Regions from separate parts of the Homo sapiens genome. Here all the other regions are linked to region 2. The links come from fine-mapping of genetic effects on gene expression. A gene starts in region 2. Each other region holds a variant in brackets. All regions are shown on one strand. Distances are from middle to middle. Region 1 overlaps RNF213 (ring finger protein 213). Region 2 holds the start of RNF213 (ring finger protein 213). Region 3 overlaps RNF213 (ring finger protein 213).

What was found. PIP is the estimated chance that this variant, and not a neighbour inherited with it, causes the effect.
Region 1: its variant is the best candidate, but not a certain one, in a credible set for the expression of RNF213 in subcutaneous fat (TwinsUK, PIP 0.71).
Region 3: its variant is the best candidate, but not a certain one, in a credible set for the expression of RNF213 in whole blood (INTERVAL, PIP 0.67).

What each region holds. Positions count from the first base shown.
Region 1 is chr17:80,283,049-80,287,218 of GRCh38, forward strand. All of the region lies in intron 3 of RNF213 (ring finger protein 213), which reads left to right. Among named protein-coding and RNA genes, the nearest start is that of RNF213, 24 kb to the left of the region's middle. RefSeq lists an enhancer at 1,686-2,246. The variant C/CT (reference allele first, on the strand shown) is at 2,626.
Region 2 is chr17:80,259,107-80,263,276 of GRCh38, forward strand. It overlaps RNF213 (ring finger protein 213), which reads left to right and starts at 1,746. Exons shown (of 68, transcript NM_001256071.3): 1 at 1,746-1,796. RefSeq lists silencers at 1,125-1,474, 1,754-2,103, 2,484-2,623.
Region 3 is chr17:80,374,833-80,379,002 of GRCh38, forward strand. RNF213 (ring finger protein 213) reads left to right here. Exons shown (of 68, transcript NM_001256071.3): 51 at 928-1,038; 52 at 1,469-1,711; 53 at 2,050-2,131; 54 at 2,930-2,964. The region is part of intron 1 of RNF213-AS1 (RNF213 antisense RNA 1); the gene reads right to left. Among named protein-coding and RNA genes, the nearest start is that of ENDOV, 38 kb to the right of the region's middle. RefSeq lists a silencer at 1,724-1,924. The variant A/G (reference allele first, on the strand shown) is at 2,135.

The DNA of each region.
Region 1 (4,170 bases), 24 kb after region 2:
GGGGGATATTTATAAAATTATGTAAATACTTCTAAGCCTCACCCCCCGTAAAATTATAAATACCGCTATGGTTATGTAGTTCGAGATTCTGGGTCAAAGAAGACTATGAAACTGTTCAATGGAAAAGCAGACAGCAGGAGGCACTGGCAGCACAGGGCGCCTACCAGGGCACTCGGCCAGTCCTCACCGAGAAGTAAGTGGTCCCTAACTCAGGGCCAGGTGGCAGTTCACACGGGAAGAGCTGAGGGGGTGAGCCTGGGGCTGCTGCTCCGAGGTGTCAGCCCTGCAGGTGTGATGATGTCAGATGGTTGGTTTTGTTTCTATTGAAAAGAGGTTCTGGGATGGCGGCTTGAGGGCAGTGGTCTTCCAGGAACTGGATCACGGTCCCTCCAAGGGTCTCTCCTGCAGTTGCGTCTGCGCTTACTGCAGTCTTTCCACAGCCCCGTGTTGTGGGCAGAGGGAGTGAGGCCAGGCCTGGCTCCTGCCTCCAGCCTCCCCGGGCTCTGCCCAACCTCCGTGTGCTGCTGCTGCTGTTTCTTCCTGGCTGGCCACTCCCCTCCTGCAAGGCAGGCCCTGGGGAGGGGTGCTGGCAGCTGTTCCTAAGGTCTGAGCCCTTTGCTACATCAAGGAAAGAAGCGGTAGGGGGCCTGCATCTTCCATGCTGGTGGGAGGTGGGGGGTGGTCAGGGGCCTGCCTCAGTGGGCTCCTCCTGTTCCGGGCTGTGACTCGGCGGTCCAGAGCCTCAGGATTCTCCGTCTATTTCTGCCAGAGCCTGATTATGTCATCGAAGCTGCTAGAGCATCCATGACCTTGGCTTATTTTCAACTTTCATAATTAGGGAAAAACTTAATTTGAGGTTTGATTATTTTAACCATTAGAAATCTTTGGGTAATGGCCAGGCACAGTGGCTCACACCTGTAATCACAGCACTTTGGGAGGCCGAGGTGGGTGGATCACCTGAGGTCAGGAGTTCAAGACTAGCTGGCCAACATGGTGAAACCCCATCTGTACTAAAAATATGAAAATTACGGCCGGGCACAGTAGCTCACGCCTGGAATCCCAGCACTTTGGGAGGCCGAGGCGGGTGGATCACCTGAGGTCAGTTCAAGACCAGCCTGGCCAACATGGTGAAACCCCATCTGTACAAAAATACAAAAAAAAAAAAATTAGCCGGGCATGATGGCAGGTGCCTGTAATCCCAGCTACTTGGGAGGCTGAGGCAGGATAATCACCTGAGCTGGGGAGGCGGAGGTTGCAATGGGCTCAGATCATGCCATTGCACTCCAGCCTGGGCAACAAGAGTGAAACTTCGTCTCAAAAAAAACAAAAACAAAAACAAAACAAAAATAGCTGGGCGTGGTGGCATGTGCCTGTAATCCCAGCTACTCAGGAGGCTGAGGCAGGAGAATGGCATGAACCCGGGAAACAGAGGTTGCAGTGAGCTGAGATTGTGCCACTGCACTCCAGCCTGGGTGACAGAGTGAGACTCCATCTCAAAAAAAGAAAAAAAAAAAAGCCTTTGAATTGCAAATAATGGAAAGCCCAGCTCCACCTTTCTAATCCCATTGAGGAAGTTTATTATGGACACACCTGATGAGCCCCGAGCCTGTAGGTGAGGCTTGGTGCAGGCGTCTCCGGCCCTGTCTACTCTGCCTTCCGGACGGCTCCCCCACTGAGCCTCTCATCAGCTGTTTCCCGTTACTCCCTCGTGCCACACAGTGGCTTCCCCTGTGATCCACCTGCTACTCTGTCCTTCAGGGGACAAGACAGCGCCTCCTCTGGTGATTGATTCCTCTGGAGAGAGGAAGCGCTTCCTCAAATCTCATTGGCTCTGATTGGCTCACAGGCCAATCCCCCAGTGGGTCCCTATGGCCAGGATGATAGACATCAGTGGTTGACACCAGCCCACGCACAAGAGCTGCCCTTGGGGCTAGAGTAAGGCTGATGTTACTCAAACCATGCAGCCGATAACAGGGAGAGCCAAGGGACCATTCCCCAGGATGGGCCATCCAGCGCTGTCACCAGGTGGCCACAAACACCTGCTGTGTGTGGACAGTGACCATGACCACAGCATCACTGATGGGGGCCTTGCGTGTACCAGGCAGTGTCCTACAACTCTCCGTGTGCTTTGTCCCATTTGGTCACCCTCAGTGATGCTCTGATGTGGACACATCTGCTGTCTCCACTTTAAAGATGGGGAAACTGAGGCCCACGGTGGCTCAGTGACCCACCTGGGGTTGCCCAGCCATTGTAGCATGGGGTGAGCTGGATGGGAACTCAGGCAGGCCCTCTAAACCCAGCCCAGACGCCACTGCATGGCAGCCCCGGAGGTACCAGGCAGCTGGCCGGGCAGGGACGGCGTCATCGCCTCTCCGAGGGGAGGCTGTCTTCAGGGCTGGGACCCCACCTGCCAGGTCTCCTCAGCACACTGAGGACGATGGGTGCCTGCAGTGAAGGGTTGTGCAGCACCTGCCTGTTTCTTGACGGCCTCTTGCTTCCCCCTCTCAGCAGGTCCCCCGGCAGCTGACCAGCCTGTCATTCAGAGGCTGATACCTGCTGATGACGCCACTCTACAGTGCTGGGCCCCAGCCCCAGACTCTTCTTCTGCAGCTGCTTCTGCAGTTG[C/CT]TTTTTTTTTTTTGTGAGATGGAGTCTTGCTCTATTGCTCAGGCTGGAGTGCAGTTGCGTAATATCGGCTGACCGCAGCCTCTGCCTCCCGGGTTCAAGCAATTCTCCTGCTTCAGCCTCCCAAGTAGCTGGGATTGCAGGTGCCTGCCACCACGCCCAGCTAATTTTTTGTGTTTTTAGTAGAGATGGGGAGGATCTCACCATGTTGGCCAGGCTGGTGGCGAACTCCTGACCTCCAGTGATCCGCCTGCCTCGGCCTCCCAAAGTGCTAGGATTACAGGCCTGAGCCACCGCACCTGACCTATTGTTTTATTTTTGAGATGGAGTCTCACTCTGTCGCCCAGGCTGGAGTGCAGTGGCCAGATCTCAGTGAGGCCCTGTTTTAGAGTCAGCCTGCGCTGGGAGTGAGTCTCCTCTGTCCACACCCAAACGCACCAAGTGTGCCATTTCAGCAGTGGTGCTTGCTCCCTGGAATGGGACCAGGTGCTCTCAGCGGTGTGGTGGGTTGGTGGCCTGGGGTTGGTGTCGGACGCAGGCCGGTGTTGGACGCAGGCCGAGCGGGAGGCTGGAGCCAAGCTGTGGCCTGGGGAGATGTTATGGGTCGGAGGGTCGGGGGGTGGGGGCGCCTCCTGTGCTTTGTGTACACTGAGCATGGGTTTCCTCTGAATTTAAAAAGGAGGAGAAAATCGGAATTTCTGGCCCTGGTTCTGGCAGGAAGTGTGGCCATGTGTGATAGAGAAGGGGTTGCAGTGTCGGCCTGGCCTCCTGGAAGCCCTGGGATGCAGCCCTGTCCAGCTGCGGCCTCGTCATGCCCTGGGTGGGTGGGAACGCAGCCTCCTCCTTGGGCCACACAGGGGCCGACCGTCAGCCGAGGGGCTCCTGAAGTGGCAGTGATGGGATCCTGTGGCGCTTCCTCATCCCCTTGTTACCAGTTGCTGAGGAGAGGGTGGATTAGCCCCTGGGCTGCACCTCAGTGTGTGCAGGTCTTCCCAGGTATGTGGGTGCAGGAGGTGGGGGGCGTGGAGTGGGCACAGGTTCACACCTGCTGCCTGGCAGTTTGGGGCCCTCATCACACACCACCAGGTTTCAGGGGATCTACAAGTCACTTTCCTGTACTGACCTGATCCACACGCACCCCTGAGTACTGCCCCCTGGGAGATGCCTGTGGGGTCCCAGGGTCCTGGCAGCCTCCTCCCACCAGCCGCAGTCCTGGTTCCAAAATGGGGACCGTACACCTGAACCTGGATGTGCCTTTGAGCCTGGCTGTGCCTGCTGAGGGTGCGGTGGGAGCTGCTACTCATTTTTTAGTCTCATCCTTCTCATTTCAAATTTTATGTACGAAATATTTTTATAGAGGTGCATAAAACGTGGAAAGCCTGTGTGTGCTTTCTAATGTTCAAAACCAGGCCAGGCACGGTGGCTCACGCGTGTAATCCCACACTTTGGGAGGCCAAGATGGGAGGATTGCCTGAGCCTAGGTGTTGGAGACCAGCCTGAGCAACATGGGAGACTCTGCCTCTACAGAGCATTTTTTAAAACCAGCTG
Region 2 (4,170 bases):
GTGGGAGGAAAAAGCAGGTTTTAATTGGAGACCCAGCAAAGCGAGAAGATGCCCAACTAGCGTTCTAAAGTGTCACCTTGGCTGGGCGCAGTGGCTCATGCCTGTAATTCCAGCACTTTGGGAGGCCAAGGCAGGTGGATCACCTGAGGTCAGGAGTTTGAGACCACCCTGGCCAACATGGAGAAACCCCGTCTCTACTAAAAATACAAAAATTAGCCAGGCTTGGTGGCGGGCGCTTGTAATCCCAGCTACTCGGGAGGCTGAGGCATGAGAATCACTTGAACTGGGAGGTGGAGTTTGCAGTGAGCCAAGATCACGCCACTGCACTCCAGCCTGGGGTATAGAGTGAGACTGTCTCCAAAAAACAAACAAACAATAAATAAAGTGCCACCCTAAAATTAAAAATTTATCCTCAGGTTTTGTGTGTTTGTTAGTTTTTGAGGCAAGATCTCACTTTGTCATCCAGGCTGGAGTGCAGTGGTATGATCACGACTCACTGCAGCCTGGAGCTCCCTGGGCTCAAACGATCCTCTTGCCTCAGCCTCTTCAGGTGCACCACCACGCCCAGCTAATTTTTTTAAATGATTTTTTTTGTAGAGATGGGGTCTCTCTATGTTGCCCAGGCTGCCATCGAGTTCTTCTAGGGAAACTTGCCGTGGGCACCGTGGGGAGTGGGGTAAGGGCAGGGTCTGTGTCTTGTTCCCATGGCTGTCGTGGGCAGTTGTCGGTTAGGAGGGGTGGCTGTCGAGGATGTTGGACTAATTGTTGGCGACCCCCCGCCCCAAGCAGGAGCATTCAGCTGGGGTTCCGCGCCGGGAATTGTTTCAGGATGAGGGTCCCCTCTGGAATGCGCAGAGGGGCGCAGTGTCCAGAGAGGGACGGGATGAAGGGGTGAGAGGAGAAGGAAGAAAAAGAAAGTGGGTGATTTTAAAACGGAGGTCCCTGGTCACACCATGAGCCTCACAGATGGGAAAACTGAGGCACGGGGGATGGTGCGGACCGCCGTGGCCCCTCCATCATCAGTGACAGAGCGCTCCGCGCGGGGCCGCGGAGGTCCCTTAATCTGCAAAGGCCCCCACGCGGCGCGCTGACGACGTCCACTGCACCCGCCGGGCGCCCTCTGGGCCGCTCCCAGGCTGGCCGCCGGCTCTGCGCGGCCGCAGACACTGTCCGAGGTGCTGGGCGCCGGGGCGGGGGGCGCGCCTGTCCCGCCCCACTCGGCTGCTCGGGCCTGCCCGGGGTCTGGGCTTCCGGGAGACCCGCATGCGCCCCACGCCTGGCGGGAACCGAGGCCCCTCCCGCGTCTGTACCCGGCGCGCAGCGGCCCGAGGCGCCTCCCGGGGGCTGGGGGCCCGGAGTCACTGGGAGGCGCCACCGGCGGGGAATTCCGCACACGCCTGCGCGGGGCCGGCGGCGGCGGCGGGCAGGGCGGGGCCGGCGGCGGCGGCGGCGGGCAGGGCGGGGCCGGCGGCGGCGGCGGCGGGCAGGGCGGGGCCGGCGGCGGCGGCGGCGGGCAGGGCGGGGCCGGCGGCGGCGGCGGCGGGCAGGGCGGGGCCGGCGGCGGCGGCGGCGGGCAGGGCGGGGCCGGCGGCGGCGGCGGCGGGCAGGGCGGGGCCGGCGGCGGCGGCGGCGGGCAGGGCGGGGCCGGCGGCGGCGGCGGCGGGCAGGGCGGGGCCGGCGGCGGCGGCGGCGGGCAGGGCGGGGCCGGCGGCGGCGGCGGCGGGCAGGGCGGGGCCCAGGGCCCCGTGACCCGAGGGGCGACAGCGCGCGGCAGGCGGCGAGCTCGGGGGCCGCAGGTGCGAGCGGGCCTGGAGAGTCTCCCGGGGCGGGGAGCGGGCTAGGATACAGTGGGCCCCGCGGGCCGGCGGGCCGGGTCCCGGGGAGCGGCGCCTGCGTCCGGATGCCCCTCCCGGCCGCCTCTTCCTGCCGGCTCCAAGTTTCGGTTTCGCCGCCGGGGTGCCCGGTCCAGCCCCGCCCGCGGCGCCCACTGACCCTGTTCCCCGGCTGCGGGAGGGGTCGGGGTGGGGGCAGCGGGCACGCCTGGGACCCCGGCGACATCCCCGGAGCGCAGAGCGCGGAGGAGGCTTTGCGCCCCGGCAGTGCTGCCCCCGGGAAGTGGCCGGGGCACGGGGGGTGTAGTGGAAGGGGACAGCCGGACCCGGGCCTGCAGGTCCGCCCGGGAATCCTGCGCCTGTACGAATGGCAACAACGGAAAAGTGAAGTTGCAAAAACAGACTCCTAACTTTTACGAGGGAGGCATCGCCCCGTCTGAACCGCACCGCGCAGCGTCCTTCCGACTTGGCGAAGTCGCCCGAGCGCGGGGCTCAAGGCCAGGGTGGGCACCCCTCCCGGATGGCTGCCTGCAAGCCGGCGGGCCGGGCCCTGGGGGAGTCCAGGGCGGGAGGGGAAGGAGCTGTGCAAACATGGTGGTGGCCCTTCCCTGCCCCCACCTTGTTGACTTTGGTTGTGGTTGGGGGATGGGCTTTGATTTGGGTGGCAGTGTCTGTGCTTGGGAAAAAATGTCAGAGAAAAGACAGGAAGCGGATTGAATGCAACAGTGTTGGGTGCCTGGGGCTCTCTCTTGTGTCTTCCGGCCCCTAGAGCAGATGGAACAATAAGATGCTTTAGGGGGCCGGGCGCAGTGGCTAATGCCTGTAATCCCAAAACTTTGGGAGGCCAAGGCGGGTGGGTCACCTGAGGTCGGGAGTTCGAGACCAGCCTGGCCAACATGAAACCCCGTTTCTACTAAAAACACAAAAAATTAGCCGGGTGTGGTGGCGCATGCCTGTAACTCCACCTACTTGGGAGACTGAGGCGGGAGAATCGCTAGAGCCCGGGAGGCGGAGGTTGCAGTGAGCTGAGATTGCCCACTGTACTCCAGCCTGGGTGAAACTGTCAAACAAACAAAAAATGCTTTTTGGAGGATTTTTCGAGTTTTCTGGTCTGTGGTTCCCCAGTGTAGCATTGGAGAAGGAAACACTTCGGGTGGAAAGAAAGAGGCCTGGGCGGTGGGGAGTCATTGAAGGTGTTTGAGGGAGGGAGTGTCCACTGGTGGTTGTTTCAGGTAGAGTGTGGAGGGGAGGAGGTACGGTGGGAGCCAGGGCTTGGCTGTGGCAGGGGTAGGGGAGTTTTAAACTCTCCTTCTACTCTGAAGGAGAGATAATTTTAGTCTCTGGAATAAAAGGGCAGCAGACCTGGAGAAAAGGGATGCAAATTGTCCCATACACCTATTGGGAACCTCATCAAAGAGAAGACTGCAGAAGACAGATGATTGATGTTTTTATGGCATTGGGACAGGGGCTTGGGGCTGGAGAGGGGAGGTGTGCAGGGTTGTCTTGTTGTGCAGATAATCACTCAGGTGATCTCAGAGCTGCTCTCAGAGGAACTGGCGAGGCCGCAGGCACTCCTCTTGTGTGTCCCTGGGACCGTTCCTAGATCCCTCTAGGCAGATAATGGGGCCTCAGAGAGAGCTTCTGCTCCATTCTGCTGTTTCATGGTGTGGATTTCCTTTATAGCCTTTTACAAAAGGATAGCTTCCCAGAACTCCTGAGTATGTGGTTGCTCTGAATAGCCATCTCAAAATTGACCACAGAATCTGTTTTGGGGTGGCATAGATTAGTCTCCCACACAGGTCAAGCCAGGGAACCCCACCCAGTGCCTCCGTCCCTCGTTCAGGCCCAGCCTGAGTGAGCCCACCCCAGTGGGAGGAGAGGGCAGGGCCAGGGCAGGGAGGGGGCCTGAGTGTCCTCCTGGCTGCTGAAGGCACCAGTCAGCTGCCGCTCCAGCCACTGCCCCAGTGGAGTTCTTTGGTTCCAAGCCAGCAGAAGAAGGTGGTGGGTGGGCCAGTGTGCCCTGAGGCTTCTTACTGGGGAGGGAGAGAGTCAGGTCCTCCACTGTTAGGTGGCCAAGCGCCCAAACGCCATCTCCACTCTCACCCTGGATGCAAGAAGTGACCCCGGAGGCCTGAGTCCTGGCCTTGGTCTGGTTTGATGCCATCCACCGCAGAGGCTGTTCTGAGGGCAGGTGGTCAGTGCAGAGTGGCGCGCTTTGTGGATGGCAGCCTCCCCCCATTACTAGGAATCTGACTGCCAGCCCAGTAGCCCTGGGCTGCCTGCTCAGGCCCCATCACCTGTGGGGCAGGTGCTTTAGTCCCCTTAAGAGGATGAGGAG
Region 3 (4,170 bases), 120 kb after region 2:
ATCTGCCAAGTCCATCAGCAGCGCCTTTTGATTTATGCCCATTACTTCCTTTGAGACCCTGCTGGAAAACAGTCTAAGAAAGATGCTGACACAACTATTAATAGCAAAATTCATACCTAGATGTATTCATAATTCAGATATGCATGTGTGTTTAATAAAAATACATATGTTGGTGTAGTGTGGGAAGTTAAAAAATATAAAGATGTTTTTAGAATCTAACCTTTAAATTGGTCTGGTCTTGCTTCCTTTTTGAGTCCCTGTGCCAGGAAAAGAGGAAATGGAAAATCCTCTTTCTGCTCAGAAGTTTCTAAGACCAGTGAAGGAGTCAGAAGAACAGATGGTGATTCCGTTGCTTCTGTCATTAAGCTGGCTGCTAAATATGCGTTGAGTTTAATCTGAGAGTATTTCAGGAACTTTGTAGCCCAAAAGTTGCTCGCCAGAAGACTGCCCATGTGGGGCATGACCCCAGGTGTCCAGGCCTGGAAAAGGCTCCTTCCCTTTTGGTGGGTTGAGGGCTGAGGCATGTGAAAAGTTTCTTTTCACATGCAAACTTCGTGGGCCTCTGGCCCTTAGGTAGATCTGGCAGGCAGCGGTGCGGGGGCGTCTATCCTATAATCCTAGCACTTTGGGAGGCCGAGGCATGCAGATCACAAGGTCAGGAGTTTGAGACCAGCCTGGCAAACATGGTGAAACCCCGTGTCTACTAAAAGAAAAAAAAAAAGAATTAGCCGGACATGGTTGCGTGTGCCTGTAGTCCCAGCTACTCGGGAGGCTGAGTTAGAATCGCTTGAACCCGAGAGGCAGAGGTTGCAGTGAGCCGAGATCATGCCACTGCACTCCAGCCTGGGTGACAGAGCAAGACTCCATCTCAAAAAAAAAAGATGTGTTGAGCTTTTAAATTCTTACTTGATACCCTTGATTTTGCAGGCCTGCAAGACCCCCCAAAGCCAGCAGTCAGCCTACTTCCTGTTAACACTGTTTAGAGAGGTGGCTATTTTGTACAGATCCCACAATGCAAGCCTCCACCCCACGCCAGAGGTGAGTAACCGCCTGCAGGGCTGTGTTCAAAGTCTCAGTATTTGGAGGGATTTTATTGAATAGAATGAAAGTTATCAACACAAATCATACCATAATTTTTTTATCTAGGATAGAGGTTCTCAACCTTGTTATGTGGAGGAACACATAACCAAGCTGTTTAACCCAAAGCTTGTAGAATTATAATGAAAACTAAAGCCAAGAACATAAGATAATGTTTAACAGAATAGAATATCAAAATTAATGCTTACGTATGTGGATGCTGTGTTTGTATATGCACAATTCTCTTCTCTGAAAAATTTCCCCCTCAAATGGTGGTGATTTCTCCATATTTACCTTGATATTTGATGTGTATTTGGTGTCAGTGTATGTCTAAGAGCAATTCACACAATATTCTTTGATACATCTTAATGTTAAGTTTTTTTCCTGTCAGCAATGTGAAGCTGTGAGCAAATTCATTGGCGAATGCAAGATCCTTTCACCTCCTGATATCAGCCGTTTTGCAACATCGCTCGTGGACAATTCTGTGCCATTGTTGAGGGCGGGGCCTAGTGACAGCAACCTTGATGGAACGGTGACAGAAATGGCCATTCATGCTGCAGCCGTCCTTCTGTGTGGACAGAATGAACTCTTGGAGCCCCTAAAGAATCTGGCCTTCTCCCCAGCCACCATGGCGGTAAGAGTAGGCCACAATTCCATCGGCCTTCACTGGAACACCCCCCAGAGCTTGTCACTGTAGAGACCGAGCTGCAGCTGTGGGAACTCTTGAGCATCTTTATCTCCTCAGTTCTCTGCCTTTGTGTCACCTGATTCTTGAGCACACAAGATAGTGACAGACTTGCCTTGCCCTTTGTTATTTCACAGGAAGCTGTTCTGTTTTCTTCACAGACAGCTTGAGAAGTCCAGCAGAAGGAAAGCAGAGTTCCCTTTCTTCCTCTAGGCCTCCTGCTGAGCAGCAGCACCCAGGTGACAAGCTCACTTATCTAGAGCTGTCTCTGTCTTCTTGTTTTTCAGCATGCTTTTCTTCCAACCATGCCTGAAGACTTGCTGGCTCAAGCTCGGAGGTGGAAGGGTCTGGAGCGAGTCCACTGGTACAGTA[A/G]GTGTTGGGGTCTAGATGACCCCACACTCCTTTGAGCTTCAAAGGGTGTCCAGATGCTATGAAGCATTGGGTTCGACTTGGGGTCCACGTGGTTTGTGCCTCAGGGTCCAAAACCACCTGCATTCTACCGGTGGCGTCTGCAGAAGACGAATGGCTTGAAGGAGCTGGCACTCCGCCGGCTAGATGATCCAAACCATTTCATTTCTTTGTCGTGTGGAAAAGGCCCTCTGTGATGCACTTCTGTTCTCTGGAATATGCCATTTTGGGAGAAGGGAGGGACTGGGAACCACATCAGAGACGCATTCAAAGGCCCACCACAAAACAAAGTTTTTGACACAAAGCTCTTCTGAAATATATGAAATATAGAACCGGGAGACTGACTCATATAACCCATGACATGTAAATTTTGCTGTTGCCTGAGTAAATATTTTAAAACTAGTTTTTAAAGTTGTTATAAAATATGCTCATGACAAAAAAAAAAAAATCAAGGAAAATAGAAAGGTCTAGAATCCTGTCCACCTTGCCTCCAAAAGTACCCCTGGTATGGGCCTATATTCTAATTGCTCTTTACTTGATAAAATTAATAAAATTAGACTCAGACATTTTTCACTGACAACATACATTTATTAAGCTTCAGGCAGGTGTCATGTAACTTAACAAATTAGCGTGGGATGCTCTGGACAGTCATTCTCATATTGTGGTCAGGGCCAGAGAGTAGAGAGTTAGCTTTCCCTTTTCAATGTGGGTCATTGGGTGAAACCTCATTAGCCAATGTGTGTCCTGTTCTCTTCACAGCTTGTCCCAACGGCCATCCTTGCTCCGTGGGAGAGGTGAGTCTTGGTATTTAAGATAGGGTTTGAGGGGTGGCGTGCACTCCTGGGTTGGAGGAGGGGGATCGTGGGTCAGGAGAGTGAGGCTCTCGGCCTTCCAGGAGAGCACAGGCTCACCGAGGACTGCCCAGGGTGCTCTGAGCAGGGCAATGCCAATGGCGCTAAGGGTTTCTAGCCCAGGGCTTCTCAGACTCAGCACTGTGGACGTGGCTCTGCGGCGTGGGCTGTCCTGTGCACTGCAGGCTGTCTGGCAGTATGCCTGACCTCGAGTCCCTGGATGCCAGGAGCACCCACTCCTCCCAGTGTGACAGCTAAAACCAGACATTGACAAAGGTCCCCTAGGAAAGAAAATTGCTACTGGTTGGGAACTGCTGCTAGCCATTCTTTCTAGCCACTGCAGCATGGGGTCAGTGAGCCTTGTCTTGATAGAATGGCAAGGTGTTGCCTGGACCACAGGCTGCATTATTAGCCCTCAGAGGAGGTGTGGTCCAGATGCCAAAGGAAAAAGCCACGTGTAGGCTGTGCGCCATGGGGGAAGAACTGTTGATTATTCCTCTCTGGATTCCCAAGCATCTAGCCTAGAGCCCTCCATACACAGTATCTGTACTTGCTGAGCAAGAGGCTGGTGGGTTGAGCTGACACGTGGTAGTTAGTTATTAGTATTACTTACTTGGTTGAGATATGTCTGGCTCTCTTACCCAGGCTGGAGTGCAGAGTGACATGATCATAGCTCACTATAAACATTGAACTCCTGGGCTCAAGCGATCCTCCCGCCTCGGCCTCCCAAAGTGTTGGGATTATGAGCCACTGTGCCCAGCCTGATACACGTCATTTAATAATGTATATAAGAGATACGGAGGGAGAAAAACTGTTACATACACTTCATTTTTCTGAGCTTCAATCACTTCCTTGTCCATGAAATGAGGACGCTGAAATAGAGTCTATCCAAGAATGCTCCCAGCTCTGAAATTCTGTAACTGGTTTGGTGTGTTATCAGCCGTGACTCTCAGTATATTGTGGCACAATATCTGATTTTGAAAAATAAGCCTTTGGAAGTAGATTATGTGATTAGATTTTTTTAAATAAAAAAGTCCAAGCCAGGTGTGGTAGGTCACACCTGTAATCCCAGCACTTCAGGAGGCTGAGGCAGGTGGATTGCTAGATCCCAGGAGTTTGAGACTGGCCCGGGCAACATGTTGAAACCCC